Linked DNA regions of Homo sapiens. The protein of the gene in region 2 binds, or shares a complex with, the protein of the main gene of each other region. Each region holds a gene or a part of one and is shown on either strand. Other genes may lie near its edges.

Region 1 (15,461 bases), on a different chromosome or scaffold from region 2:
TGTAGTCCCAGCTACTCGGGAGGCTGAGGCAGGAGAATGGCGTGAACCCGGGAAGCGGAGCTTGCAGTGAGCCGAGATTGCGCCACTGCAGTCCGCAGTCCGGCTTCCGGCCTGGGCGACAGAGCGAGACTCCGTCTCAAAAAAAAAAAAAAAAAAAAAAGAAATCAATAGGCCGGGCGTGGTGACTCACGCCTGTAATCCCAGCACTTTGGGGGGCAGAGGTGGGCGGATCACGAGGTCAGGAGATCGAGACTATCCTGGCTAACACGGTGAAACCCCATCTCTACTAAAAATACAAAAAAAAAATTAGCTGGGTATGGTGGTGGGCACCTGTAGTCCCAGCTACTCGGGAGGCTGAGGCAGGAGAATGGTGTGACCCTGGAGGCGGAGCTTGCAGTGAGCTGATATCACACCACTGCACTCCAGCCTGGGTGACAGAGCAAGACTCCGCCTCAAAAAAAAAAAAAAAAAAGAAATCAATATACTCTGTTCTTAGCTCCCACATTTTAGCTTAGATATTTGCCTTGGCATACCTGAACCGGTCCAAGCAAGCATTAGGTCATAGCCTATTCCTCTTCCTTATTTGGAGGTGTTTTTGCCTCTCTCAGCATTCCAGGAGTTACTTGCTCTCTTCCTTTGTTTCCCTCTGCCTTTGCCTCTTTTGGGAAGTTCTAAATTGCTAGCCAATCGGGTTGAGTACAGAATGTGAGGTCCTGTTCCAGCCAATGGAAACTGGACACAGCAGTAGGGTGGATGCGTCAGGTTATAAATGACCCCGTCTCTTTTGTTCATGTGTGCTCTTGTGGCAAGACTGCTAGCAAGCAGCACCCTTTCTGCAGAGAGTAAACTAGCCTTGCTGAGAGATCCTTTGTCTCAGTGTTGATTTTGGCGACACCGAGCACCCATTCCCAACACAGGAGGCGGAGGTTGCAGTGAATCAAGATGTTGCCACTGCACTTTAGCCTGGGTGACACAGCAAGACTCCATCTTAAAAAAAAAAAAATCACTGGGGAGGCCGGGCATAGTGGCTCATGCCTGTAACCCCAGCACTTTGGGAGGCCAAGGCGGAAGGATCTCTTGAACCCAGAAGTTCGAGACCAACCTGGGCAACGTAGCAAGAGCCCATCTTTACAAACAATCAAAAAATTAGCCAGGCATGGTGACACACACCTGTAGTCTCAGCTACTTGGGAGGGTGAGATGGGAGGATTGCTTAAGCCTGAGAGATGGAGGCTGCAGTGTGCTGTGATCATGCCACTGCACTCTAGCCTGGGCAACAGAGTGAGACCCTGTCTCAAAAAAATCAGTCAATCAATTGGCCAGGCGCAGTGGCCAGCACTTTGGGAGGCCAAAGCAGGAGGATCACTTGAGGTCAGGAGTTCTAGACCAGCCTGGCCAACATGGCGAAAACCTGTCTCTACTAAAAATACAAAAATTAGCCGGGCGTGGTGGCATACGCCTGTAATCCCAACTACTTGGGAGGCTGTGGTGGGAGAATCGCTTGAACCTGGGAGGCAGAGGTTGCAGTGAGTCGAGATTACACCACTGCACTCTAGTCTGGACAACAGAGCGAGACTCCATCTTAAAAAAAAAATCAATCATTGAGGAAAAACCCAACCAACAAAAGATTTGTGTGGCTTCTTCAGTAATTTCAGCAATACTATGAAACAATACCTCTGCATTCCTGTTCTTCATTCTCTCCGCCAATTCCTTTTCAAGAGTATCAATGATTTGTTGGTTATTACTATTCTGTCTACTGATATCCTGTAAGAACTGGGCCTTATCCCTCGCTTCCATGGGACTAGTGAGTAGTTTTTCAAACAGGAAACCACGGAGCTCTATCAGGCTGTCAATAAAATTCTGGGCTTCTGCACTTCTACCCTGTGTCTGCATCTGCAGGAGCCTAGCAGCCTGGGGGTTGCTGAGCAAGAGTCTAAGGACGTTCTTGGTGGAGTCTTTGATCTGCTGCATAAGTGGTGAGAGGCTGGATTTCTGCAGCTCTATGGAAAGGAGGCGGTCTCTGAGCCACCCTTCCTCCTCAGCCTCTTTCTGCTCCTGCAATTGCCTTTCTTTCTCTTTCAGGCACCTGACGTTTTCAAGGAGGACCTGGCAGAGATCCTCATGCTCTCTCACTGCCCTCATGACGTCCTCCCCCAGCATCCCCTCCATATCCTCTCTGTTGGATGCCACATACGACAGCAAGGTCACCAGCTCCACCTTGTAGATCGCCTCATCCAGGATGGACATGATCCTTTTGGCCTCAATGGTGGTGAGTTTGGTCCTAGAGAGAACCAAGGGTTTTAGTGGATCAGCTGGCCTTTTAGATGGGTCTGTCTTTGGCCCTATTCTGTTGATGGCAGGGGCCTGATACAAAGGGGCCATGGCGAGAATGTCTAAAGCCATCTTGTGAGCAGCCCTCTGTGCCTCTGTAGGTCCACAGAGATGGAGACTTCGGTAGACTACTTGGGTCTCGTGCTTTTATTGTCTCTGGCCATCCTGCAAAATGAAGAAGTAGGTGTGAGTGCAGCTGTGCTGACATCTGTGTGGTTAGTGTGGCTGCAGAAACCACAACTGTTGACATCAAGAGTTCATCTTAGGTCCTCTGTCGCTTTTACACAGAACCTTTCACTGGAAGCAGTTTTCAGCTTTGTGAGGGTGTTAGGGCCACAAGGGCAGGAAGACCAAGTGTGGAGGCATCTCAGGCACATGTGTCAGGCGGGGACCAGCCAGGCATACAGACAGCATTCTAAGGATTTAAAACCAGAGACTGGTTACATCAGTGATGGGAGAGTTGAGAGGCCAACCAGGGGAAGACAAAGCCATCCCGCAATTGTCAATGGCAGGAAGCCACCACATGAAGAGATGGTGAGCCTGGGGCCCAGGGTCACCCAGGGGAAGTTTGAACCACAGCCATCAGTTCCCAGAGGAGCTAGAGACATTGCCGGAAATGCAGATTAAAGAAGGGTGGCGGTGGGGGAGGAGAAATACCCTGGTTTCTTTCTACTGCCCTTGGCCAAAACCAGCAGGAAACCAACTGACAAGCAGCCTGGGCGACGGAACCACAGGCCTCAGCCTATGTCTGAGCAGGACAGGGACAGGGCAGAATGCAGTGTAAGACTAACAGGACTAGGAATGGCACATTTTCACTGATTTTAAAGTTTTTTGGTTTGTTTGTTTATTTGTTTTGAGACAGAGTCTTGCTCTGTCGCCCAGGCTGCAGTGCAGTGCCATGATCTCGGCTCACTGCAACCTCTGCCTCCTGGGTTCAAGTGATTCTCCTGCCTCAGCCTCCTGAGCAGCTGGGACTACAGGTGCACACCACCACGCCTGGCTAATCTTTGTATTTTTAGTAGAGACAGGGTTTTGCCATGTTTGCCAGGCTGTTCTCAATCCACCTGCCTTTGCCTCCCAAAGTGCTGGGATTACAGGCCTGAGCCACCACGCCTGGCCATTTTTAAGTACTGATTTTAAAAATTGGTGGGTGAAATATAACTTTGAAATACAATTTAAAAAACTGTTTCACTAAATGTAATGTTGTATTCTGGATTGGGTTCTGGAGTGGAAAAAGGACATTAGTGGAACTGGAGAAATCCAAATCCAAATCCAAATCTAGTCTAAAGTTTAGTTAATAGCATTGTACCAACATTAATTTTGTAGGCGCTCTGTTACCCTGGCTGGAGTGCAATAGTGTGACCATGGCTCACTCCAGCCTCGACCTACTGGGCTCAAGTGATCCTCCTGTCTCAGCCTCTCAAGTAGCTAGGACTATAGGTGCTCGATGCCTAGCTAATTTTTTAACTTTTTATAGAGATGAGCTCCACTATGTTGCCCAGACTGATCTTGAACTCCTAGGCTCAAGCAATCCTCCCACCTTAGCCTCCCAGTGCTGGGAATACAGACAGGAGCCACCGTGCCGGGCCTAATTTTGTGGTTTTGACAAACACATCAAGGTTATCTAAGATGTTAACATTAGGGGGAGCAGAATGGAGGGCATACGGGAACTCTCTGTACTATCTTTGCAACTTTTCTATAAATCTACAATTATTACAAAGTAAAAAGTTTAGTTAAAAGACTATTTCAGGCCAGGCATGGTAGCTCACACCTGTAATCACAGCACTGTGGGAGGCCGAGGGAGGTGGATCATCTGAGGTCAGGAGTTCAAGACAAGCCTGGCCAACATGGCGAAACCCCGTCTCTAATAAAAATACGAGAGAATGCCAGGCATGGTGGTACGCACCTGTTACTCAGGTTAACCCCAGTTACTCAGGAGGCTGAGGCATGAGAATCTCTTGAACCTAGGAGGCGGAGGTTGCAGTAAGCCAAGTTTGCATCACTGTACTCCGGCCTGGGCAACAGAATGAGACTCTGTTTCAAAAGATAGATAGACAAATAAATAACTGTTTCAGAAAAATCTATAGGGCAATCAGAGATCAGTAATTTATATTGCTTTCATAGTACAATGGCTAAAAGTACTAGCTTTGCACAGCCCCACTTGGGTTCAAATCCTTGCTGGGGGTCTCTGGGCTGGTCATTTAATCCTCCAGAGCTTGGGCTTCCTCAGCTGTAAAACAAGAGTCCTCAGGATGAATGAGAAGCCTGCACGCTGTAAAAAATGTTCAATAAATAACTAATAGCACTAACCCAGGAAAACGAAAATCCCAAGTCCAGGACTTTAATGATTTCTGATGCAATTGCTGAACGAACACCTACTGCCTTGGCCAAGCACAGGGGCTCACGCCTGTAATCCTAGCACTTTGGGAGGTTGAAGTGGGAGGATCGCTTGAGCCCAGGAGTTCAAGACCAGCCCAGGCAACATAGCAAGTCCCCATCTCTTAAAAAAGAAAAAAAGAAAAAAAAAAAAAAAAGAACACCTACTGCCCAGGATGTCTGCTCACCCCCCAACACCATGTCTCAGATGGACACCCCCCATAACATCCCCATCCCTCACCCTGATTCTTCTTCATCTCTTCCCCCTTATCCTGTTCGTTCTCCAGGTTAAGTATCACCATCTGACATCCCTATATGCACCTGTTTATTTGTTTATTGTCTGTCTTTCCCCCTCTCCTAAGAAGTAAGCACCAATGAAAGCTGTAAGTTACTACTTACAGGTTACCTGTGCCACTTTTATTTTCATATTGTCTGTAGATGTGAGAAATGTTTTGAAGAAAGAATCATTAGGACTTGAGTGAAAGAGTTTTGAGTTTGGGTGACTGGTAGAGAAAGATGGGGCCCTTAAGAAACTATGGCAGAAATTGGGAGAGGAGAGGACATTTGGAGGGGAGGACAATGAGCTCACTTTTAAACTCATTGAGCTCTAGCTGCCATACTGCAGTGGACAATGGTGTCTTGGCCTTCCCATTATCCAGGGAGTGCAGTGGCACGATCATGGCTCACTGCAACCTCGACTTCCTGGGCTCAAACAGTCCTCCTGCCTCATGCTCCCGAGTAGCTGATACTACAGGCACGTGCCACCATTCCCAGCTAATTATTGTATTTTTATTTTTGTAGATATAGGGTCTTGCTATGTTGCCCAGGAGAAGGAAGTGACACTTGAAGCCACAAAAGATAACTTCAACTCACCAAACCAAAGAACACACCAAGAGAATGGCAGGGAATCAAAGAAACACCCAAAGTGACTAAGAACGAAAAAGAAAGGCAGGCCAGATCAGGTGCTAAGGATGTTTAGTTCCTTGGCAAGGCAGAATGTATTCAATATCAGGCCAGGTATCATGGTTCACGCCCGTAATCCCAACACTTTGGGAGGCTGAGGCAGGAGGATTTGTTGAGCCCAGGAGTTTGAGGATGCAGTGAGCTATGATCAGGCCACTGCATTCCAGCCTGAGCAACAGAGTGAGATCTTGTCTCTTAAAAAAACAAAAAAACAAAAAACAAACCAGAAGCCCCTTTGGGAGCAGAGGATTGGGAATTATCTTCAATCACTTTGATTCACACACACTTCCTGCTCCCTAATGAATCTCATGAGATCCTTTGAGGCTTTTCCTGAAGACAAAGTTTTAGGAGGCTGGGCATGGTGGCTCACAGCTGCAATCCAAGCACTTTGGGAGGCCAAGGAGGGAAGATTCCTTGAGCCCAGGAGTTCAAGATCAGCATGGGCAACAAAATGAGACCTCTACAAAAAGTTAAAAAAAAAATTAGCCTGTCATGGTGGCAGGTGCCTGTAGTCCCCGCTATTTGGGGAGCTGAGGCAGGAGGATTGCTTGAGCCAGGGAGGTTGAGGCTACAGTGAGCCATGATCGCACCACTGCACTCCAGCCTGGGTGACAGAGCGAGATCCTATCTCTCCTCTTTTTTTTTTTTTTTTTTAAGCTGGAGTTTTGCTGTTGTCACCCAGGCTGGAGTGCAATGGTGTGATTTGGGCTCACTGCAACCTCTGCCTCCCAGGTACAAGCAGTCTCCTGTCTCAGCCTCCCAAGTAGCTGGGATTACAGGCGTGCACCACCACGCTAGCCTAATTTTGTATTTTTAATAGAGACAGGGTTTCATCATGTTGGCCAGTCTGGTCTCAAACTCCTGACCTCAGGTGATCTGCCCACCTTGGCCTCCCAAAGTGGTGGGATTACAGGCGTGAGCCACCATGCCCAGCCTAGATCCTATCTTGTAAGTGAAAAAAAAGTTTTAGGGACAGCCATGGAGATTTCTCAGGCTCTCTGAGGATGAAGGATCTTTGCCCATGGCTACAGGATGAATGTGAACAAGGTAGTTAATGAATGCAGTCCTCTCCATTGTACCCCAAAGCTCTCAGGCATAAATCAAAATGCCTGAATTCTTCAGAGAGTGCGGCTGGAAACGCAACGTTACATGAAATGTTTCCAATTTGCTTTCAGCCAAATTACCTCTTTTGCTTTAAAGGGCAAACTTGTTTTCTTTGATTATGATGACACCCATCATTTCTTGACAGCTCATTTGGGTGAACAAGATAAAGCCCGTGGAACTAGGATTGAGGGGAAATGCATCTGACTCTGACGACAAAAATGACTGGAGAATCTCTTTTCCTTGAATCCTAATATGATCATTTCATGTCCTTTTTAATGCCACCAACCTTAATATTTAAATCATTTCCAACTTAAGCATCTCCGTTTAAAATTCCTGCCCTGAGAGTGAAGCAAATTGTTAATGGATGGGAAACTTTAATTGGATATTCCCTTTATTTGTCATTAATTCTGCTGATGAACTTTATAAATGGAAATATATCTTTATCATGCAAATTATACCTCGTCTTCATTCAAACAGGCTTGTTGGATATTTTATTAATTTTGCTCTTAGAATATTTTGAGGAAAAAAAAGATTTGAACTAAATTATATATTTTTTCCCCCTGGAGAGAAGGAAAAAACCCAACACTTAACAACTACCCTACAAATCCAAACTGGCAAGTGGAAAAGTCAGAGGGTGCTAAAAAAAAAAAAAAAAAAAAAAAAAAAACCAAAACAACTGGAGTGTGGGAAATGGATTTCTCTCTCTCTTTTTAAATTCACTCTTAATTTAGGTTCGGGTTACATGTGCAGGTTTGTTATATAGGTAAATTTCATGTCATGGGGGTTTGGTGTACAGATTATTTCATCACCCAGGTAATAAGCATAGTACCTGATAGGTAGTTTTTCCATCCTCATCCGGATCTCATTTTAAGGAATACCATTTTAACATTAGCTAAGTAAGTTCTTGAGAACTTACTGTGTAGCAGACACTGTTCTGAATGCTATATACGAATTAATTCCTTTAATCCTTGCAACAACCCTATGAGGTAGGTGCTATTATTACCTCTATTTCACAGATGAAGAAAGGGAGACAGAGAGAGAGGTTAGATGATTCTAGTTAGTTTACAGCTAGGAAGTGACAGGGCCTGCACCCCATCAGCACTATTCTGTCCAGTCTCTTGATTTTAAGATTGACTTCTGGCCGGGCGCAGTGGCCCACGCCTGTAATGCCACCACTTTGGGAGGCTAAGGCAGGTTGATCACTTGAGGTCAGGAGTTTGAGACCAACCTGGCCAACATGGTGAAACCCTGTCCCTACTAAAAATACAAAAATTAGCTGGGCATGGTGGTGGGCACCTGTGGAGGCTGAGGCGGGAGAATTGCTTGAACCTGGGAGGTGGAGGTTGCAGTGAGCCGAGATTGCAGCACTGCACTCCAGCCTGGGTGACACAGTGAGACTCTGTCTCAAAAAAAACAAAAACAAAAAACAAAAAAACCAAGGTCTTGCTATGTTGCCCAGGCTGGTCTTGAACTCCTGGGCTCAAGAGGAATTTTCTTTTTAGCCTCAGAAAGATCTCACTACCCTCCAAACCTCTAGCTTTCTTCCGAACTCTGTATGTTTTATCTGAGGCTTTCAAGTCTAGGGAGGGGGAAAGTGAGGGGCTAGAAAGAAGCAACAGATTCATGATGAAACCTGCTATCCCAACCAACTACTATACAGTAGGTGCTCAATAAAGAAATCACTGTTGCGGTTGGGCTCAGTGGCTCACACCTGTAATTCCAGCACTGTGGGAGGCCGAGGCAGGTGGATCACCTGAGGTCAGGAGTTTGAGACCAGCCTGGGCAATATGGCGAAACATCTCTACTAAAAATACAAAAATTAGCCGGGTGTGGTGAAACATGCCTGTAATCCCAACTACTTGGGAGGCTGAGGCAGGAGAATCACTTGAACCAGGGAAATGGAAGTTGCAGTGAGCTGAGATCGCACCACTGCACACTCCAGCCTGGGTGACAGCGTGAGACTCCGTCTCAAAAAAAAAAAAAAAAAAAAAGAGAAAAAAAGAGAAAAGAAAAAGAAATCACTGTTGAATAAATGAGATGGCAAACCCAGATTTACCAACAGGCTTGTCTCCTCACTGGGAGATGCTGGCATAATAGGATAATGTTGTTTTGCAAAATATATATGTCCTGAATTGGAGCCAGAAAAGAGAGTCATATTTTCATGATAGAACTGTAGGCCAACAATTGGCCTATGAATTCTTTTGCATCCCTTTACTCAGGGCTTGGAATTTTTTAAACAAAAGTTTTAAATGTAATGAATTTTTTACTTTTTCATAGTTGAGTGGTTTTTTTTTTCTTTCTGTGACTAATTTTGAACTATTACCCAATCCTCCTCTCTTGTTCTTTTTGAGAACCTGTGTTTTATGGTTTACAACTGGTCTGTAAAAGATTCCCAGGCTAGGGCTGCAGCAATGAATGCTGGAGGTATTGACAGTTGGGACCCTGTTTGTAATGCTGGCTGGGTGGCTGCAGGCTCCAGGATTATCTGGTGCTTTGGAGACAGAGGACATGGGATAGTGACTCAGATTGGGAGGGAACATGCCCCCCGGGACAGATTTCTATGTTGCTGGTTATGATGAAATACTTTCCACTGACCACAAGCTATATAGCCTTGGGCAAGTCCACTTGATCTTCTGGGCTTTCATTTCCTCATTACTGAAGTGGAAACGAAAAACACATTTGGAATGCAATTCCAGTGTCTCACCACTTCCTGGCTGTGTGGCTTTGGGTAAGTCGATTAACCTCTCTAAGCCTTGACGTTCTACCTGTGAAATGGGACACAGCACTGTTGAGGGAATGAAATGAAATCCTTGCTCAAAAGTGTTACGCTTTTATGACTTTTAGTACTACTTCAAAAATTATGTTAATATCAACACTTTAATGTTTCTTAAAATAGATGTGCTTTTCCACAAAATAATATGGTATATGTTTTTGTATCAAAGGCTTTATAAAAAGTCAAAACAGAAGCAGTTTTTACTCCTTTTTACTATTTTGTTTTTAATTTTGCTGGTTTCTGCATTATTCATGTTCTCCTGTTAGTGACCGAAGAAGACCAAGTTCCCTTAAATCACTCCCCATTGTCCAGTCTCCCCTCCTTATCAATCAGTTCATCAGGAATTTTAATTCCTCTTTTGGTTACAGTGTCACTTTAGAAATGCTTATTTCTGGTTATATCTAAGTGTAGACAGCATCACTTTGGCAGTTTCAGACAGAAGGAAGAATTTCCTAGTAGTGAATTTAGATTATTCTATAATCAACTTCTCCAACTTGAAAAAAATATTTAACTACTACACACCTATTAGAATGGACAAAATCTAGAACACCGACAACTCCAAATGCTGGTGAGGATGTGAAGCAGAAACTCTGTCATTGCTGGTGGGAATGCAACATGGTGCGGCCACTTGGGAAGACAGTTGTTTTCTTACAAATTTAAACCTGCTCTTACTGTACGATCCAGTAATTGCACTCCTTGGTGTTTACCCAAAGGAGTTGAAAACTCATGTGCACACAAAAACCTGCACACACAAAAAGCTTATGGATATTTATAGCAGCTTCATTCACAACTGCCAAAATTTGGAAGCAACCAAGATGTCCTTCAGGAGCTGAGTAGATAAACAGTGGGGCATCCCGACAATGGAATACAGGATTATTCAGTGTTAAAAAGAAATGAGCTGTCAAGCCACGAAAAGACATGGAAGAAACTTAAATGCATATCACTAAGTGAAAGAAGCCAATCTGAAGAAGCTGCATATGGTATCACTCCAACTATATGACATTCTGGCAAAGGCAAAACTATGGAGATAGTAAAAAGATCAGTGTTGTCTAAGGGCTGGGGGAAGGGAGGGATGAATAGGCAGAACAGGGAGGATTTTTAGGGCAGTGAAAATACTATGTACCTTACTACAATGATGGATACCATCATTATACATTTGTCCAAATTCACAGAATGTACAACACCAAGCGTGAACCCTTATCCCTTATGTAAACTATGGAATTTGGATGCTGCTGCTGATGTGTCAATGTAGGTTCATCAACTGTAACAAATGCACCACTCTGGTGGGGGAGGTTGACGGTGGGGCAGGCTGTGCATGTGGGAATAGGGGGTATGTAGGAACTCTCTCTACCTTTCTCTCAATTTTGCTGTGAATCTAAAACTGCTTAAAAAATAAAATCTTAAGGTTGTAACCCTTTACTGGGCAGTGAAATCAGTTTGCCAACTGGGACTAGAGTTAAAATTAAACGAAACAGGGTTGGGTGCGGTGGCTCACTCCTGTAATCTTTGGGATTACAGGACTTTGGGAGCACTTTGGGAGGCCGAGGTGGGTGGATCACCTGAGGTCAAGAGTTCGAGACCAAGCCTGGCTATCATGGTGAAACCCAGTCTCTACTAAAAATACAGAAATTAGCAGCGCATGGTGTTGGGCACCTGTAATTCCAGCTACCTGGTAGGCTGAGGCAGGAGAATCGCTTGAACCCAAGAGGCGTAGGTTGCAGTGAGCTGAGATTGCACCACTGCACTCCAGCCTGGGCAACAGAGAAAGGCTCTGTCTCAAAAAAACAAAACAAAAAACAGCCTATCTCAAACCCGTCCTGCTCTCAGGCACTAATGTATAATGTTCCTTTTGTCAGAAACCAACCCCCCAGGAATAATTTCTCCCTAGATTAACAATTTCTCATTCTTTAGGTCTTAGCTCAATGGCTACCCCTCCTCAGACTGGAACAGACAGCACTTTACAACCTGTGGAAACTCTCTCACCTTTCCTGCATAGTACTAATCACACGTGTAATTTTTTTTTTTTTACAGCTCTATTGAGGTATAATTTACATTACCATAAAATTCACCCATTGTAAGTGTAAAACTCAGTGACTATTTTTGTAAATGTATCTGAAGTTGCCACATCACTACAATCCAGTTTTAGAACATTTCTATCACTCCCCCCAAATTCCCATGAGCTAATCTGCAAACAATCTCTGCTTCCACTCACATTTTTTGTTGTGGTTGTTTTGTTTTTGAAACTGAGTCTCGCTCTGTCGCCCAGGCTGGAGTGCAGTGGCGTAATCTCGGCTCACTGCAACCTCCACCCCCCTGGTTCAAGCAATTCTCGTGCCTCAGCCTCCCAAGTAGCTGGGATTACAGGTGCGTGTTACCACGCTTGGCTAATTTTTACGTTTTTAGGAGAGACAGGGTTTCAGCATGTTGCCCAGGCTGGTCTTGAACTCCCGGGCTCAAGTAATCCACCTTCCTTGGCCTCCCAAAGTGCTGGAATTGCAAGCGTGAGCCACTGCCCCTGGCCTCCACTCATATGTAACTTTCCTGGATAGTTCATATAAATGGGATCATGCAGTATGTAATTGTTTGCATCTGACTTTTTGCTTAGCACAGTGGTTTTCAACCTGGGGCAACTTTGCCCTCCAGAAGACATTTGGCAATAATCGGGAGATGCATTTGCTTGTCACAACTGAGAGAGGCTACTACTGGCATCTTGTAGGTAGAGGCTCGTAATATTGCTAAATATCCTACAATTGGCAGGATAGTTCCCCACAACAAAGAATTTTCTCACCCAAAACATCAATAGAGCTGAGGTTGAAAAACCCTGACCTTTTTTTTTTTTTTTTGAGATGGAGTTTTGCTCTCGTTTCCCAGGCTGGAGTGCCATGGCGTGATCTCGGCTCACTGCAACCTCTGCCTCCTGGGTTCAAGCGATTCTCCTGCCTCAGCCTCCCAAGTAGCTGGGATTACAGGCATGCGCCACCACGCGCAGCTAATTTTTTTTTTTTGTATTTTTAGTAGAGACGGGGTTTCTCCATGTTGGTCAGGCTGGTCTCAAATTCCCTACCTCAGGTGATCTGCCTGCCTTGGCCTCCCAAAGTGCTGGGATTTACAGGCGTGAGCCACCGTGCCCGGCTGCCTTTTTTTTTTAATAGACAGGGTCTTACTCTGTCACGCAGGCTAGAGTGCAGCAGTGCAACCATGGATTACTGTAGCCTTGACCTCCCCAGGCTCAGGTGATCCTCCCACCTCAGCCTTCTGAATAGTTGGGACTACAGGTGCATACCACCATGCCTGGCTAATTTTTGTATTTTTTGTAGAGATAGGGTCTCACTTTGTTACCAGGCTCCTAGGCTCAAACTCCTAGGCTCAAACTAGGATCCTCCTGCCTTGGCCTCCCAAATTGCTGGGATTACAGGCGTGAGCCACTGGGCCAAAAACCCTCAACTTAACATGTTTTTGAGGTTCATCCAGGTTGTAGCAATTATTAGTATTTCATTCCTGAATAGTATTTTATTGCTGAATAGTATTCCATTCTAAGGAAATATCATGAGTTATTTATTTATTCACCTGTTGATGACATTTGGGTTGTTTCCAGTTTTGGGCTGTTAAGGGTGATGTTGCTAAGAACATTTATATTTAAGTCTTTGTGTGGACTTATGTTTTCACTTGGGAGGGGTAACTTCCTAAGAGTGGAATTGCTAGGTTATGTGTAAGTTTATTTTTTGTTTTATTTATTTATTTTTGAGACAGGGTCTCACTCTGTCACATAGACTGGAGTGCAGTGGCACGATCTCGGCTCACTGCAACCTCCGCCTCCTGGGTTCAGGTGATTCTCCTGCCTCAGCCTCCCAAATGGCTGGGATTACAGGGACCCGCCAGCATGCCCTGCTAATTTTTGTATTTTTAGTAGAGACGGGGTTTTGCTATGTTGGCCAGGCTGGTCTCGAACTCCTGACCTCAGGTGATCCACCTGCCTGTGCCTCCTACAGTGCTGGGATTACAGGCACGAGCCACTGTGCCTGGCCTATGTTTAACTTTTTAAGAAACTGCCAACTATATTTCAGATTGGTGGTACCAATTGGTATTCTGCTGTACCTACCGGCAACATATGAAAGCTACAGTTTGTTTATTTATCTACATGATGATACTTGGTATTGTCTTTTTGATTTTTAAATGTCTACTCAACTCTTTTGCCCATTAAAAAAATTGAGTTGTCCTCTTATTGAGTTATAAGAGTTATTTTTATATTCTATATACAACTCTTTTATGACACATGATTTGCAAATATTTCCTCCATGTCTGTGTCTGTGGCTGATCTTTTCATTTTCTTATGAAAATATCTTTTGAACCTCAAAGTTTTTTTTTTATATATTTTTTTGAGACAGGGTTTTTCGCTCTGTCGCCCAGGCTGGAGTGCAGTAGTGCAATCATGGCTCACCGCAACCTCCGCCTCTTGCGATCAAGCAATTCTCCCACCTCAGCCTTATTTATTTATTTATTTATTTATTTATTTTTTGAGCTGGAGTCTCGCTCTATCACCCAGACTGGAGTGCAGTGGCACGATCTCGGCTCGCTGCAACCTCCACCACCCGGGTTCAAGAAATTCTCCCGCTCAGCCTCCTGAGTAGCTGGGATCACAGGCACACGCCACCAGGCCCGGCTAATTTTTGTATTTTTAGTAGAGACAGGGTTTCACCATGTTGGCCAGGCTAGTCGCAAACTCCTGGCCTCAGGTGATCTGCTGGCCCAGGTGATCTGCTGGCCTCGGCCTCCCAAAGTGCTGGGATTACAGGCTGAGCCACCGCGCCCGGCCCTTAGCCTCATTTAATCATCACAAGAAACTCTCTGTCTTCAGTAGGTACAATGAGATCACATCTTAAGGATGGAGATGGGAGTTAAATTCCAAAGTTAGGATAAAGGCAAAAGTGGTGTAATAAAAATTACCTAATTTATTTATTTATTTGAGACAGAGTCTTGCTCTGTTGCCCGGGCTGGAGTGCAATGGCGCTATCTTGGCTTACTGCAACCTAAGTCTCCCGGGTTCAAGTGATTCTCGTGCCTTAGCCTCCCGAGTAGTTGGGATTACAGGTGCGCCTCCATGCTCAGCTAATTTTTGTATTTTCAGTAGAGATGGGGTTTCACCATACTGGCTAGGCTGGCCTAGAACTCCTGACCTCAAGTGATCTGCCCGCCTCGGCCTCCCAAAGTGCTGGGATTACAGGCGTGAGCCACCATGCTCGGCAAAAACAACAACAACAACAACAAAACAAACAAACAAAACTACCTAATTTAAACACTGAAGTGAGATTGCCTGCTCACCGAGGAACGTATGGCCGTTGGGTGAAATGGGAGGGGACTTATAAACTCCCCTCCCACCCACAGCTCCCATGTTTGACTTGAAATAAGTTAACTACGATATGACTCTGCTTGACTGTTGTCCTCCTCGTTTTAGGGATGAGGGAGTGGAGCCATGAAGTGGGCAGGTAGAAGGGCAGAATGGAGGCCGGCTCCCTGCAGGTTGTGGAGCGAAAGGTCCAGACTAAGGCAGGAGCTGAGGGACAGGGTCCTGAAGCTGAGACGAGATCGCAGCGGGGGCTTCTAATTCCTCAGGGAGCCAAAGGACAGAGGGCTGAACCCTATTCCACATCTCCCCCGATCCGCGACCCTTTCCCAACTGGCTACTCACCTGCTCTGACCGCTCCAGGTTTCCCTAGCCACAGTTACCGCCGCGGTCCCTGCGTTGCTAGGTTACCCGCCAATCTCAGAAGGCGAGACTCGGTGTCTGACTGACCTTTCTTTTCACCATTCAATTTATTGTTCCGCTCAGTTGTCCCCACCTCCTGAAGTCTGACCAATCAGAAGCACCGCCATTTTGACCTTTCACCAATGGAAAGACTTGGGACTCCCTCTGGGTT
Region 2 (15,461 bases):
TTTGGTAGCAAAACAGGGCGACCATAGTCAATAATTTAATTGTAAATTTAAAAAGAACCAAACGCGTGTAATGAGATCATTTGTAGCACAAAGGATAAAGGCTCAAGGTGATGGAGACCCCAATTCCCCTGATGTGACTCCCACGTGTCACACGCCTGTATCAAAGTACGTCATGCACTCCATAAGTATATACACCTACTATGTGCCCACAAAAATTAAAAATTAGAAAAAGAAAAGAGTTTAAAATAGAAACAATTTTAAGTCTATAAATCAGTTTTTCAGCAGTCTATTAAAGGAATAACAGGCCGGGTGTGATGGCTCACACCTGTAATCTCAGCACTTCGGGAGGCTGAGGCGGGTGGATCACCTGAGGTCAGGAGTTTGAGACCAGCCTGACCAACATAAGAAACCCTGTCTCCACTAAAAAAAATACAAAATTACCCAGGCATGGTGGCAGGCGCCTGTAATCCCAGCTACTCGGGAGGCTGAGGCAGGAGAATCACTTGAACTCGGGAGGCGGAGGCTGCGGTGAGCTGAGATCGTGCCACTGGGCAACAAGAACAAAATTCCAATCTCAGAAGAAAAAAAAAAGGAATAACACATTATGATCGAGTAAGGTTTATCCCAAGAATTTGAAGATGACTCAACATCAGCAAGTCTATTAATGTATTTCCCTTTATTAACATATTAAAGAAGAGAAAACAATATCATCTCAATTAATGAAAAAAAAATCCATCTCAAAATTGAGTACTCATCCTGATGAGAAGAAAAACTTTTAACAAGAAAAAAAGATACTTCCTGAAGTTGATAAAGCTTGTCTACCAGAAACCTACAGAGTAAATCTCACAGTTGATGATTAAAAAAAAAAAAACTCATTTGTGGCAGTTACCAATTTACTGCCTGTCAGCTCCAAATCCACCTCTTTGCTTTGTGAAAGTGGATGCTTGCTGTGAACGTTTTTCTTGCCAGCTGACAAAATGCTAAGCTGTGTCAGTAGAGGGCGCTGGAGGCACACGACAGGAGGGCGTCTCACTGTCCGGTCACCAGAGTGCGGCTGCCAGCGGTATGTGGGTGGGACACCCGGCCGCACTTGTCCACCCACACGTTTTACTGAGACCGCGCAGGAGGATTCCTGCTGGCCAAACACGTTATGACCTAGTAGGGTTTATCCCAGGAATTTAAAGATGACTCAAATCAGCAACTCTCTCAATGTATTCTACTTTATTAACATATTAAAGGAGAAAAAATAACTCAATGGACAAAAAAACTGTTTTTCTTTTTTTTTTTTCCCTAATTGAGTACGCATCCAGATTAGGAAAACAAAACAAAACAACAAAAAAAACTTTTAGTAAGGTATCTGTCACCTAACCACCATTAATCTCCCATTTTGACTAGTGGCCACGCTGTCACTTTGGGTCCCCGTGCATGAACATCAATTCAGAGCCAATGCTTCAGTCATCTCAGAAGGCCTGGGTAGTTTGCTTTCCCCAGTGCACAGTCACTCTGTAAATAGCACAGGTCTTCTGAGTAGGGCCTAGAGGGAGACTTACAGTAGGTACTTGCAGCAGGGCTGCAGAGTTCATTCTTTGGGGGAAATCCCCCCACACCCTCACACCCCAGTTCATAAAGGGGCCCTGGGGCTGTGAACTGACTCAGTCCTAAGAGCTAGGGGAGAGGCCGTGACTCTCTGCTGTGGTGATTCAAATCAGGTTTCTGGCTACCAGACCCAGAATTTTTTTCTGTTATACTTGAGTAGGCAGCCCAACAATTTTGTTCCTAGAGATACCATCATTCATTAGCCATTGCCAAGAATCCCAGTGGCCAAAGGCATTCTGATTACATCTCTGCCGCCCTTCGTGGTAAATGTGCCCACCTTATCTCTGACAATTAAGTGCTCCCAATTATCCGGAGGCACTTCAGGATCCCATCACCCCACTGATACCAGGAAGCTCATCTCAATGACAACATCCTTAGGGTCACACCTGCCTATGTAGGAAAGCAAGCACAGAGCTTTTAGAGAGGCAGATGCTCCCCTCACTATTCTATTTCTCAATGTCTTAGTAAAGAAGTGTCTTCTGGGCCTTCTCATGGTTAGGAATGGGTGCTTGGTGGTAGACGTGTAAGTCACACATGATAAATCCACTGTGACATTCCTGTCTCCCTACATCTTTGGATTCTCTCCCCCAAATCATAGCAGGGAAGCTCTGACATCTCCACCTCATCAAATGTAGGCAAATGTTGAGTCACCTCCTGCTGCTCAAGCTAAACCATGAAATCCAGACTCTCTGGTAAGTGCATCTATATCAATGAATTAAACAAATGGAGTGTGATAGCCTACCCTGTTGGATCTAACACTCTTAGAATCAACTCGACATGTTTCCCAGGTTTCTTCCAATATTTATTAGCAAAATCTTACCATTCTTTTGGTGTGTAAGTGATTTCCTTCTGAGTTAGTTATCTGAGTTTTATGTCCCACTGTAACATGCTAAGATTTGACCCTAGTTATGGATCCAGTGACAACAGGGGTGACTGTACCAGGTCTGAAGAGTGAGCCGTTTCCAAGGCATCCTCCCAGATGAAGTTATCACAGGGGTGACTGTACCAGGTCTGAAGAGCAACCCTTTCCAAGGCATCCTCCCAGATGAAGTTATCACAGGGGTGACTGTACCAGGTCTGAAGAGCAACCCTTTCCAAGGCACCCTCCCAGATGAAGTTATCACAGGGGTGACTGTACCACGTCTGAAGAGTGACCCCTTTCCCAGGCATCCTCCCAGATGAAGTTATCACAGGGGTGACTGTACCAGGTCTGAAGAGCAACCCTTTCCCAGGCATCCTCCCAGATGAAGTTATCACAGGGGTGGTGACTGTACCAGGTGTGAAGAGCGAGCAACCCTTTCCAAGGCATCCTCCCAGATGAAGTTATCACAGGGGTGACTGTACCAGGTCTGAACAGTGAGCCCTTTCCAAGGCATCCTCCCAGATGAAGTTATCACAGGGGTGACTGTACCAGGTCTGAAGAGCGATCCCTTTCCAAGGCACCCTCCCAGATGAAGTTATCACAGGGGTGAATGTACCAGGTCTGAAGAGTGACCCCTTTCCCAGGCATCCTCCCAGATGAAGTTATCACAGGGGTGACTGTACCAGGTCTGAAGAGCAACCCTTTCCAAGGCATCCTCCCAGATGAAGTTATCACAGGGGTGACTGTACCACGTCTGAAGAGTGACCCCTTTCCCAGGCATCCTCCCAGATGAAGTTATCACAGGGGTGACTGTACCAGGTCTGAAGAGCAACCCTTTCCAAGGCACCCTCCCAGATGAAGTTATCACAGGGGTGACTGTACCACGTCTGAAGAGTGACCCCTTTCCCAGGCATCCTCCCAGATGAAGTTATCACAGGGGTGACTGTACCAGGTCTGAAGAGCAAGCAACCCTTTCCAAGGCACCCTCCCAGATGAAGTTATCACAGGGGTGGTGACTGTACCAGGTCTGAAGAGCAACCCTTTCCAAGGCACCCTCCCAGATGAAGTTATCACAGGGGTGGTGACTGTACCAGGTCTGAAGAGCGAGCAACCCTTTCCCAGGCATCCTCCCAGATGAAGTCATCACAGGGGTGGTGACTGTACCAGGTCTGAAGAGTGACCCCTTTCCCAGGCATCCTCCCAGATGAAGTTATCACAGGGGTGACTGTACCAGGTCTGAAGAGCAAGCAACCCTTTCCAAGGCACCCTCCCAGATGAAGTTATCACAGGGGTGACTGTACCAGGTCTGAAGAGCGAGCAACCCTTTCCAAGGCATCCTCCCAGATGAAGTTATCACAGGATCTTCAGGCAAAGGAAGTGCGGTGTCCTCAGACACAGGAGGGCAGGGTACTTCCGCTGCCAAGGGAGCTTTAAAGTGATTTGCCAGTTTCATCCGAATCTGAGCAGGTGTTCTCATTCCAAGTTTCAGGGTCCTGTTCTTTCCCTGTGAGTGCTCTAACTTGCATATCAGTAACTTGGCATGACTATGACAAACTCATGTGTAATCCTGACTAAAACACCAGAACAGTGGTGTTGTATTAACAACCAATAATAGAAAAAGGATTCCCCATTGTCACTACTACAACCAACAAGTACACTGGACTTTCTAGCTAGACAACAAGCCATGAAATGAAAACAGACATATAAATAATAAAAAGGATAATATAAAATTGTTATTTGCATGCAGTAAGATTTTCCACCTAGGAAATCCAAATGAATCCACTGAAAAACCATTAGAGGGTTTAACAAATCCACAGCAATACACAAAAGAAATACCTTTCCACATACCATACACTTAGAGACAGAACCAAGAAGGTTTCGCAATGTTATCACAGAAAAACCTGGAAACAACCTAAATCTACTGACAGAATGGTTCACTAAATTTCAGTATATTCTGAGTGTGAGATATATTCTATCAATCAGCTGTACTGCTACAGAAAACATTAAAAACAAAGTAAATGTAAGAAGAAAACAACAGGCTCTGGAACACTATATATAGCATGATCCAATTTACTTAAGAAACAAATACTAGGCCGGGTGCAGTGGCTCATGCCTGTAATCCCAGCACTTTGGGAGGCTGAGGCCAGCAGATCACTTGAGGGCAGGAGTTCAAGACCAGCCTGACCAACATGGTGAAACCCCATCTCTACCAAAAATACAAAAATTAGCCAGGTGTGGTGGCAGGTGCATGTAATCCCAGCTACTCGGGAGGCTGGCAGGAGAATCACTTGAACCTGGAGGCAGAGGTTGCAGTGAGCCGAGATCGCGCCATTGCACTCCAGCCTGGGCAACAGAGCAAGACTCCTCTCAAAAACAAAACAAAACAAAAAACCACCACTGAGAATAGGTATGTTTTTAGGTATAAGTATGTATATGAAAAGAAATACATGTGGAAGAAACTTCCCTTCAGAAAGGGGAGTAATTTAAGAGGGCTTTCACTTTCTTTAACCTATGTATTTCTGTCTGAAATTGTAGCTGGACGTGGTGGTGCACACCTGTAGTCCCAGCTACTCAGGAGGCTGAGGTGGGAGGATCACTTGGGCCCAGGAGTTTGAGGCTGCAGTGAGCTATGGTGGCACCACTGCACTGAAGCCTGGGAAACAGAGAGAGACCCTGTCCCTAAAAAATAAAAAATAAAAAAATATATACTTATGTATTGCTTGTGTTATTGGGCTGAAGATCTGGGAAACTCTGGCGTCATCCCTTCGTGATCCATTTATCTACCAACTCACTGATAAATATCCAACACCTGCCAGGTATCTCACACTTGAAACAGGTAACATGATACATAATTCTTAAAGTGCAGGGCTACAGAACCCTAATTCTAATAGCCTACCAGGTATTTTTTTCAGTAAAGACCTGCAAGAGAGCATCTACAAATTCTCCTCTTTAACCACACATTTGGAATCCTTGACTGAAAACTCATTAGCTTTTTCCAAAGGCAAGCTGTATTATAACTAAGCTGGAAAATTTTCTCTTTATTCATCCAATAGGGTTATTTTGAAAGACTCCAGCTGGGGCTGGGCACGGTGGCTCACGCCTGTAATCCCAGCACTTTGGGAGGCCGAGGCAGGTGGATTACCTGAGGTCAGGAGTTCTAGACCAGCCTGGTCAACACAGTGAAACCCCATCTCTACTAAAAATACAAAAATTAGCTGGACGTGCGCCTGTAATCCCAGCTACTCAGGAGGCTGAGGCAGGCGAATCGCTTGAGCCCAGGAGGCCGAGGTTGCAGTGAGCCAAGATCACGCCACTGCACTCCAGCCTGGGCAGTAAAGCAAGACTGCATCTCAAAAACAAAACAAAAAAAAAAAAAAAAAGAAAGAAAGACTCCAGGTAGACTTAGACATAATTCTAACCTTAGATATATTATAGACCCAGCTTGGTTATTAGTATTGAAAATGCTCTTAAAACCACCGTGTCATATATATTTCACACAAGAAGAAATAAATTGAGTAAACATGTGGAAAAATGTTATGTTCACCTGTTAATAAGCAAAAATAAAAAATAAAACAACTCATTAAATTAGCAGACTTTGAAAAATATTGAAAATGGCTACTAATATTGAAGAGACCTTGAAATTACTGCCTGCAACACTGCTAACGGCAGCACAGATTCGAGAGTATTAGCAATGTTTATTAAAAGTCACAAAATACTAGTCTCTGAAACAAAAATCTCATGACTGAGATTGGCTTTTAGTAAATAGTTGCCATGAAGAAAAACAGTTCTTTGGGCAAAGCTTTAATGAGTGCATTATTTATAATAACAAACTTTAGAAACAACCTAAATATAAAAAAAAAGTGTAACAAATAAACTGTGGCACAACCATTCAATGGAACGTTAAACACAATTTTCAATTATTTTATAAAGAAACTGTAATAACATAAAAAATGAAAAGCAATGAGTAATTTTAAAAATCTTCACTCAACTGGGAATGTTATTTTTATAGTGTAAAAGATTAGTAAATTTTTTTTTTTTTGAGACAGATTCTTGCTCTGTTGCCCAGGCTGGAGTGAGTGGCATGATCTCGGCTCACTGTAACCTCTGCCTCCTGGGTTCAAGCGATTCTATTGCCTCAGCCTTCTGAGTAGCTGGGATTACAGGCGCCCGCCACCATGCCTGGCTAATTTTTGTATTTTTAGTAGAGACGGGGTTTCTCCATGTTGGCCAGGCTGGTCTCGAACTCCTGACCTCAGGTGATCCGCTGGCCTCTGCCTCCCAAAGTGCTGGGATTACAGGCGTGAGCCACCATGTCCGGCCTTTATTTATTTTTCTTTTTTATTTATTGGCCACTATACTATTGGGAAAAATTTTTAAATATAGTCATAATTTAAAAATAATTAATTTAAAAATTATGTCTTTTTTTGGTTTTTGTTTTTGAGACGGGGTCTCGCTCTGTTGCCTAGGCTGGAGTACGGTGGCGTGATCTCAGCTCACTGCATCCTCTGCCTCCCAGGTTCAAGCAATTCTCCCACCTCAGCCTCCTGAATAGCTGGGATTACAGGCGCACCACCATGCCCGGCTAATTTTTGTATTTTTTAATAGAAACAGGGTTTCACCATATTGGTCAGGCTGGTCCCAAACTCCTGAACTCAGGTGATCCACCCTCCCCGGCCTCCCAAAGTGCTGGGATGACAGGCGTGAGCCACTGTGCCCAGCCCATAAATTTGTAGGTCATAATTTGACTTAATAAATTTTAAGTCATAAATTAAGTCATAATTTGAAAATTATGAGTATACAGCAATATAGAAATCGAAAAATTTCTTATGTAAGCTCAATGATAAAAGCAGAAAACAAAATTTTACCTGCACTCTCTCAAATTACAGCTATATAAGATATCTATTCAGATGCATAACCCTGAAAGAAAACATGAGCTAAAGTTCATTAGGCTGAAAGAATGATGGTTGGTTTTCCTTCAAAATATTCTTTTTGTTTCCTCAGTATAAGCAGAGTACAAAAAAAAAGTCAAAGCATAGAAAAGCTGTGGGGACCCACCTGCTGCTCCTTTCTAAGGAACATTTCAATCTCTGTATGAGTCCGGGCCTCTTCTTCGGTTTTCATCCTGAGTTTCTGTAAGAACAATCAGATACCAGTACGTCTTCCCCGCAGGGCTGGGAATCAGAAGTTCTCAAGATGAGAGCAGCAGCTCGGTCGGTAGCTGAGGCTCCCTTTACCAGCTGGGATCCCGGGCTTTCAGTTCCCTGCAACTCCTGTTCACCAACACTGCAGAGCCACGTGGCGCGGCACTGTGTGGACTGCGTGTGTCCCTAACGAGACGAGCACAATCCCGTGAGCTGAACAGAGGTGCCCACTGAAGGACAGAAACGGCGCTCCAAGGGCACAAGGCTGTGGGGCTTAAAAAGGGGGATTCCGGAGTGCCAGGAAGAGTGTTGACGTGGCCTTGAGCCACGTCAGTCTCAGAGCGAGGAGTCCTCCCACACACAGATTCCACGGCCCAAGGACGTTTGTTCCTGCTTCCCTCTTCCCATCTGCCTGCTGCTCTTTCTTGTTTTCTTTTCTTTTTTGTGAGAAGGGAGTCTCCCTAGTTGAAGTCTGAAGTTGCCCAGGCTGGCTTCAAACTCAAGGATCCTCCTGCCTCACTGCCTCACCTCCGATTAGCTGGGACTAGTGCCTGGCTTTGCGTGTGTGCGTGCGTGCGTGCGTGCGTGTGTGCGTGCGTGCGTGTGTGCCATTTAGCATTCCCCTCAAAGAAGATCTACCACTTCTTTCTTCCTCCTGGCATTTTTCACCGTGACTTCTCATCCTATAAACTCAGGTTTGAACGAAGTTCAGCGCTCTCGATGCTGTATTTCTTACTGGAGGAGTGAAAGGTACTGGTTAGATGAAAGAAACAGCAGCAAAATCCTGCCATAACTAAGCACCTCGTTTTGCCCTCTCCCTATAATTAGTCAGAAAAATGGTGATTGGTTTGCCAAAATAAGAAGTGACCAAGGAGAGAAAGTGCAGCCAATTTTCAAAGTCATTATGAGGCGGGAGATGGAGGCTACAGCCCACTGGAATCTCTGCTTGCGAACACGCATATCCTCATTTAGGCTTTTATTTTCAACCTCAAGTGGAGGGGCTGTTGCCGATAGAGATGGAGGGAAATCTTTGTCTCCCTCCTTTGTTAGCTGAGAGGGGATCAGGAGTGACAGCTCAATTGCCATCTCCTGGGTTCTTGGCTAATGTCCCAGGGATTACCTCAATCTCTTCCACCAAGAGTTCCTCTGTTCTGTTACACTTTTTCTGGGTCTGGGCAATCTGCAGCTCGGTATTGGTTTTCATGTAGCGATTCTCCAAGTTGGATTTTGCCTTCATCTCTTGCAGTTGGTCCTTGAGGTTAGCAATATACTCATTCTGACTCTGTAGTGGAAAGACCAGGTTTCTAAATTGAAAATACATTCTACCTCCATTCAGTTCAGTCAGCGGCTTACGGTTCCCTTTTATGCGTATAAATCAATAAGGAACTGGAACTATTTTTCCGCTGTCACACAATGGGAAATTTAGCCAACAATCATGAAGTGTATAGATGAAAGTGAGTAACACAGCATTTCTAAGAATCAGGGCGCATCAGGGCTGTGAGATTAGTTCCCAGGCACATTATTGCTGTACTCCGTATGTCCCACACAGCTTTCTCATTTTGGTAGGAAGAACACTGGTCAAAATGATCAAAAGAACTGACTTCCCACCCAGGCCTCCAGCTGTGTGAACTTGGCCAAGTCAAATCTCCAACTTTTTACTTTCTATAAAACAAACACACAAACATACAAACACCCAACCTGCCTGAAGTATCTCAGAGAGTGATTATTAGGTTTCCTTGAGAACACGTGTGAAAACGCTTTCTTTTTGCAGGTCACCAAGTGCTTGGCAATTGTGAGGACTCAATAGTCATTAAGAAAAATATTTATTCAGCACCAGGCACTGAGCTAGGAAAATTGTGGAGATCTAAACAGACATATTCCCTTCCCTCATAGAGCTTACAGTCTAATAGAAGAGAGGTGGTTAAAAAGAGACAAACACATGTGTAAACTTCCAAAAATTGTGCAAAATGATAGAAAAGGAAGGCTCGAGAGGCTGTGGGAGGAAATAACAAGGGAGGAGTACATTAGACTCTGGAAGGTCTGAGAAGGACTCTCTCGGGAAAGCGATGGCTCATTCGATACCTGAAGGACAGGTAAGCCCACCACATGAAAAATAGGCTTGGCCAGGCACGGGGGCTCACGCCTGTAATCCCAGCACTTTGGGAGGCTGAGGCATGGCGACCAGCTGAGGTCAGCAGTTTGAGACCAGCCTGGCCAACATGGTGAAACCCCGTCTCTACTAAAAATACGAAAAATAGCTGGGAGTGGTGGCGGGCGCCTGTAATCCCAGCTACTCGGGAGGCTGAGGCAGAAGAATCACTTGAACCCGGGAGGTGGAGGTTGAAGTGAGCTGAGATCATGCCACTGCAGTCCAGCCTGGGTGATAGAGCGAGATTCTGTCTCAAAAAAAAAAAAAAAAAAGAAAAGAAAAAGAAAAAAAGGAAAGAAAAAGAAAAGAAAAATAGGGTTAAGGGAACTCTAAAAAAAAAAAAAAGAATAAGTATATGCCCAAATCCTGAAGCAATCAAGACCTGGATACATTCCAGGAACTGAAAGAAAGCTCCGGAGGCTCTAGCCTAGTGAGGGTTGAGGGGAGGACAGGATGAGGTTGGAGGTCGGTAAGGGCACCACACAGGACCCCGGAGACCCAACTGAGAAATTCAGATTTTATTCCAACTGTCATGGGAATCCTTGGAAAGCTTTTAGTCAGGGAGGTAACATTTGTTTGAAAAGAACTGTTTGGGCGGAATCAGTGTGTGAGTAAGTCCACAGGGAGGGGACCTGACGGCACAGCAAACAAGCACACGACTAGCAACAAAAGTGCTTCAACCCGAGACCTGCTCCTCTAGATACCAACCGCCTTTCTTCTCTTTTTACATTTTTTTTGAGATGGAGGCTCGCTCTTGTTGCCCAGGCTGGAGTGTAGTGGCATGATCTTGGCTTACTGCAAGCTCCACCTCCCAGGTTCAAGTGATCCTCCTGCCTCAGCCTTCTGAGTAGCTGGGATTACAGGTGCTCACCACCACACCCAGCTAATTTTGTATTTTTAGTAGAGATGGGGTTTCTCTACATTGGTCAGGATGGTCTTGATCTCCCGACCTCAGGTGATCCACCTGCCTCGGTCTCCCAAAGTGCTGGGATTACAGGCGTGAGCCACCACGCCTGGCCTCCAATTGCCTTTCGTCTTAACCATGTAAGTAGGGTAGAATTAGTTCTTTTGTATTAAAAAAATTTTTTTGTTTAGAGACAGGATCTCCCTCTGTCACTCAGGCTGGAGTGTAGTGGCTCGATCACAGCTCACTATAACCTCCAATTCCTGGGCTCAAGCCATCTTCCCAAGTAGCTAGTACTACAGGTGCATGTCACCATGCCTGGCTAACTTTTTAATATTTTTAGAGATGGGGGTCTCACTCTGTTGCCCAGGCTGGTCTCAAACTCTTGGCTTCAAGGGATCCTCCTGCCTTGGTCTCTCAAAGTGCTGGGATCACAGACATGAGCCACTGCGCCCGGCTTTGTTGTTGTTGTTGTTGTTGTTGTTTTTGAGACGGTCTTGTTCTGTCACTCAGGCTGAAGTGCAGTGGCATGATCACGGCTCACTGTAACTTTGACCTCCCAGGCTCAAGAAATCCTCCTGCCTCAGCCTACAGAGTAGTTGGGACTACAGGTGCATGACATCACACTCAGCTAATTATTATTATTATTGTAGAAACAGAGTCTCACTGTGTTGCCCAGGCTGGCCTCGAAACCCTGGGCTCAAATGATCCTCCCACCTCAGCCTCCCAACATGCTAGGATTACAGGCAGGAGCCACTGCTGCAGCCAGCCTCTTTTCTTTCTTGAGATAGGGTCCACCGTGTCCCCCAGGCTGTAGTGCAGTGTCACCAGCATAGCTCACTGTAGTCTTGAACTCCTAGACTCAAGGAATCCCCTCTCTCCAGCCTCCCAAGTACCTAGGGAATTAATTCTAAGTAACCATTGGAAGAAAAAACAAAGTGGTAATTGGACAAATCCTCCGTTAAGGAAAGCAAGCATAGGCAGCGGTGTCCAATCTTTTGGCTTCCCTGGGCCGCACTGGAAGAAGAATTGTGTTGGGCCACACACAAAATACACCAATGATGAACTAAAAAAAAAAAAAAATCACACAAAAAAATCTCTCATAATGTTTTAAGAAAGTTTACGAATTTGTGTTGGGCCCCAGTCAAAGCCATCCTGGGCCGCATGTGGCCTGCGGGCTACAGGTTGGACAAGCTTGACTTAAAGTATCATTAGGCCCCAACCTGGTGGGGTGGCTCACGCCTGTAATTCCAATGCTTTGGGAAACCAAGGCAGGAGGCTCGCTTGAACCCAGGAGTTCAAGAGCAGCCTGGGCAACACAGTGAAAACCTGTCTCTACAAAAAAATTTAAAAATTAGCTGGGCCTGGTGGCATGCGCCTGTAGTCCCAGCTACTAGGGAGGCTGAAGTGGTAGACTCCCTTGAGCCCCGGAGGCCGAGGCTGCAGTGAGCTATGCTCATGCCATTGCACTTTAGCCTGGGCAACAGAGCAAGACCCTGTCTCAAAAAGGTCCCTAAGATGAATCAGAACGGAATTCTTCAAGTTATTTTGTCTACTAGCTTCTTGATATAACTCTGCAGAATCATTCTAATTGTATGACAGTTATTCCAACTAGATCGGAATCATTCCTAAGAGACGGAGCATCTCTGGCACAGAATATGCTATAGGCCCTTTGAAAATATGTCTTAATATTTCATATTCTCTTACAAGTTGTAGGATTGCAGGCAAATTACTGGACCTCACTAAGCCTATTTTCTCATCTGTAAAATCCTGCCCAGGCTGGAGTGCCTGGCACAACTTATATGCTCAATAAATGTTGATGAAATGAATTTTAAGAGATGTCTGCTTTTGGCTCACTGTTTTTCTTCCATTCTTTCTATACGCACTTCCCTTCTCCCCTGTCTTCCCCATTTCTCTTTTCTCTTTTTTTTTTTTGAGACAGAGTCTCGCTGTGTTGCCCAGGCTGGAGTGCAGTGGTGCGATCTTGGCTCACTGCAACCTCTGCCTCCCGGGTTCAAGCGATTCTCCTGCCTCAGCCTCCCAAGTAGCTGGGATTACAGGCATGTGCCACCATGCCTGGCTAATTTTTTAATTTCTTTTTAGTAGAGATGGGGTTTCACCATGTTGGCCAGGCTGGTCTCCAGCTCCTGACCTCAGGGGATCTGCCCGCCTCAGCCTCCCAAAGTGCTGGGATTACAGGCATGAGCCACCATGCCCAGCCCATTTCTCCTCCTTCTTCCTCTTCCCTCCCTTCTATTTCCAAATTGTATGGCAGTCAGTGAATCTTTTTTTTTTTTTTTTGAGACAAGATCTCTCTGTTGCCCAGGCTGGAGTGCAATGGTGCGATCTTGGCTCACTGCAATCTCCGCCTCCCACCTCAACCTCCCGAGTAGCTGGGCCTACATGTACGTGCTACCACGCCACCACACCCAGCTAATTTTTTGCTTTTTTTTTTTTTTTTTTTTTTTTTGGTAGAGATGGGGTTTTGCCATGTTGCCCAGGCTGGTCTCAAACTCCTGGTCTCAAACAATCTACCTGCCTCGGCCTCCCAATGTGCTGGGATTACAGGCATGAGCCACTGTGCCTGGTATAGGTTTGAATCTTTAGGAAGACTAGAGTTAAAGCAAAAATGTGATGGTTTTACTTCTTCATCAACTGGAATCCTTTTACCTATATAATCCCTTAGATTTCCTTCAAGGTCCACCTTATATATCACTCAAGTAAATAAAGCCTTTTGCAGAAAACCTCAGCCCACATTGATAACTGTAGTTTTGTTTCTCACAGAATCTAAATAGTGTTAGACAGGGATTTATTGAATAGTGTCCGTACATACAAAAATATACTTTTGAAAACTCAAGAGCATGTTCTGGTAATTTTTCTTTCTCAAATGGAATATTAAGACTTCAGAGTAACAGTCTGAAGATCAGAAATGCAGAGTTAAAAGTCTTTAGCTTCTGCCCATGGTAAACAGAAGGTACTGCATCATGGAAGTGTTTTTTATTGTTGTTGTTTTAGACCGAGTTTTGCTCTTGTCGTCCAGGCTGGAGTGCAGTGATGCAATCTTGGCTCATTGCAACTTCGGTCTCCCAGGTTCAAGCGATTCTCCTGCCTCGGCCTCCCAAGTAGCTGGGATTACAGGCACCTGCCACTACGCTGGGCTAATTTTGTATTTTTAGTAGAGACAGGGTTTCTCCATGTTAGTCAGGCTGGTCTCAAACTCCTGACCTCAGGTGATCCACCTGCCTCGGCCTCCCAAAGTGCTGGGATTATAGACATGAGCCACCATGCCCGGCCAATGTAAGTGTTTATAAGGACGTACAACATTGGCTGTGCCAAGCCAAAGGCATCTGGTTTTAATGCCGTTGCCATGGGCCTCTGAGTACCCTGAGTTCCTTCCTGGATTGGTATTTTGCACAAACATTTTAATGGCCCTCCACGGTGACCGTGTGGAAACACAGAGAAAGATATAAAATCCTGACAGGCTATGATGGTAAAACCAAGATCGAGGCATACTAACAAGCGAGCGGAAGTGCTATTCCGTGTCCTCTTCTTCCCAGTGTGTGAGAACAGCCAGCCTAGAAGCAGTGGGGTACAGGCTCCTTTTCAGAGTTTCACTAAGAAAAGATTTGCCTTCACTACAACCTCGAATCCGAGTTGTCCATGGTGTCGGGAACCTTCCTCGTGGTCAGGTCCATGGACTGATGCATCACAGTTTTGGGTTTTCATGGCAGACCAAACATTACTTCCAAATCCCAAAATTGCCTTCAGATCGGGACCTCTGGACTTGTTATTCGAATTCAGAGAAGCATGATTTACTAATAAAAAGAGGCAGTCTACCAACTCGAGTTAATAAGGCTGTGATGGCTGCCATAATAACGTGAGCCAAGGGCTTTAATGGTAGTGTCTGCTTTCATAACTGTACATAAAGTACAGAACGGAGTACTGGTTCCTGGAAGTTTGGAAGCTACTATCTGGGAAGTTGGCACTTGTCTTAGACCTCAGGCTTCCCCTCTGGTTGGGTAGCAAAAGGAAAATGGTAATGTTGTCTATTAAAGAGACAAAAGCCACAGGAAAAAAATAGTTCTCTATTAAATTAACATTTACAGCCAGGCTCGGTGGCTCACGCCTGTAAACCCAGCACTTTGGGAGGCTGAGGCGGGTGGATCACTTGAGGTCAAGAGTTCGAGACCAGCCTGGCTAACATGGTGAAACCCCATCTCTACTAAAAAAAAAAAAAATACAAAAATTAGCCAAGTGTGGTGGCGTGCACCTGTAATCTCAGCTACTTGGGAGGGTGAGGCAGGAGAATCACTTGAACCTGGGAGGCAGAGGTTGTAGTGAGCTGAGATCGCGGCACTGCACTCCAGCCTAGGAGACAGAGTGAGATCACATCTCAAAAATAAAATAAAATAAAATAAATTAACATTTCTATTTGCTGTCTATGACTTAGAATACCGGCTGATACTATACGAGTCCATAGACTCAGAATAAACTCTGAGCTCCAGTAATCCTAGTTACTTGGGAAGCTGAGGTAGGACTAGTTACTTGGGAAGCTTGAGGCCAGGAGTTCAAAACAAGCCTGGGCAACAAAGAGAGAACCCCCCCATCTCAATTAAAAAAAAAAAAAAAAAGGCCAGTCGTGATGGCTCATGCCTGTAATCCCAGCAGTTTGGGAGACTGAGGCAGGTGGATCACCTGAGGCCAGGAGTTTGCGGCCAGCCTGGACAACATGGCAAAACTCCGTCTCTACTAAAAACACAAACATAAGCTGGGCCTGGTGGCATGTGTTTTACTATTGTTTTTGTTGCT

The links.
Region 1: DRC9 (region 2) and DRC10 share a complex: the UniProt entries of both Homo sapiens proteins name them as parts of the nexin-dynein regulatory complex.

What each region holds. Positions count from the first base shown.
Region 1 is NC_000012.12:113,205,765-113,221,225, forward strand, and holds the start of DRC10 (dynein regulatory complex protein 10), read right to left. Parts: upstream 15,331-15,461; 5' UTR 15,233-15,330; intron 4,365-15,232; exon of another isoform or gene 4,237-4,364; intron 2,746-4,236; exon of another isoform or gene 2,496-2,745; 5' UTR 2,403-2,495; coding exon 1,674-2,402; intron 1-1,673. UniProt on the Homo sapiens protein: Component of the nexin-dynein regulatory complex (N-DRC), a key regulator of ciliary/flagellar motility which maintains the alignment and integrity of the distal axoneme and regulates microtubule sliding in motile axonemes.
Region 2 is NC_000003.12:197,905,162-197,920,622, forward strand, and holds part of DRC9 (dynein regulatory complex protein 9), read right to left. Parts: intron 8,882-15,461; coding exon 8,720-8,881; coding exon of another isoform or gene 8,675-8,719; exon of another isoform or gene 8,561-8,674; intron 8,335-8,560; exon of another isoform or gene 8,239-8,334; intron 7,589-8,238; coding exon 7,514-7,588; intron 5,171-7,513; exon of another isoform or gene 3,411-5,170; intron 3,278-3,410; exon of another isoform or gene 523-3,277; intron 1-522. UniProt on the Homo sapiens protein: Component of the nexin-dynein regulatory complex (N-DRC), a key regulator of ciliary/flagellar motility which maintains the alignment and integrity of the distal axoneme and regulates microtubule sliding in motile axonemes.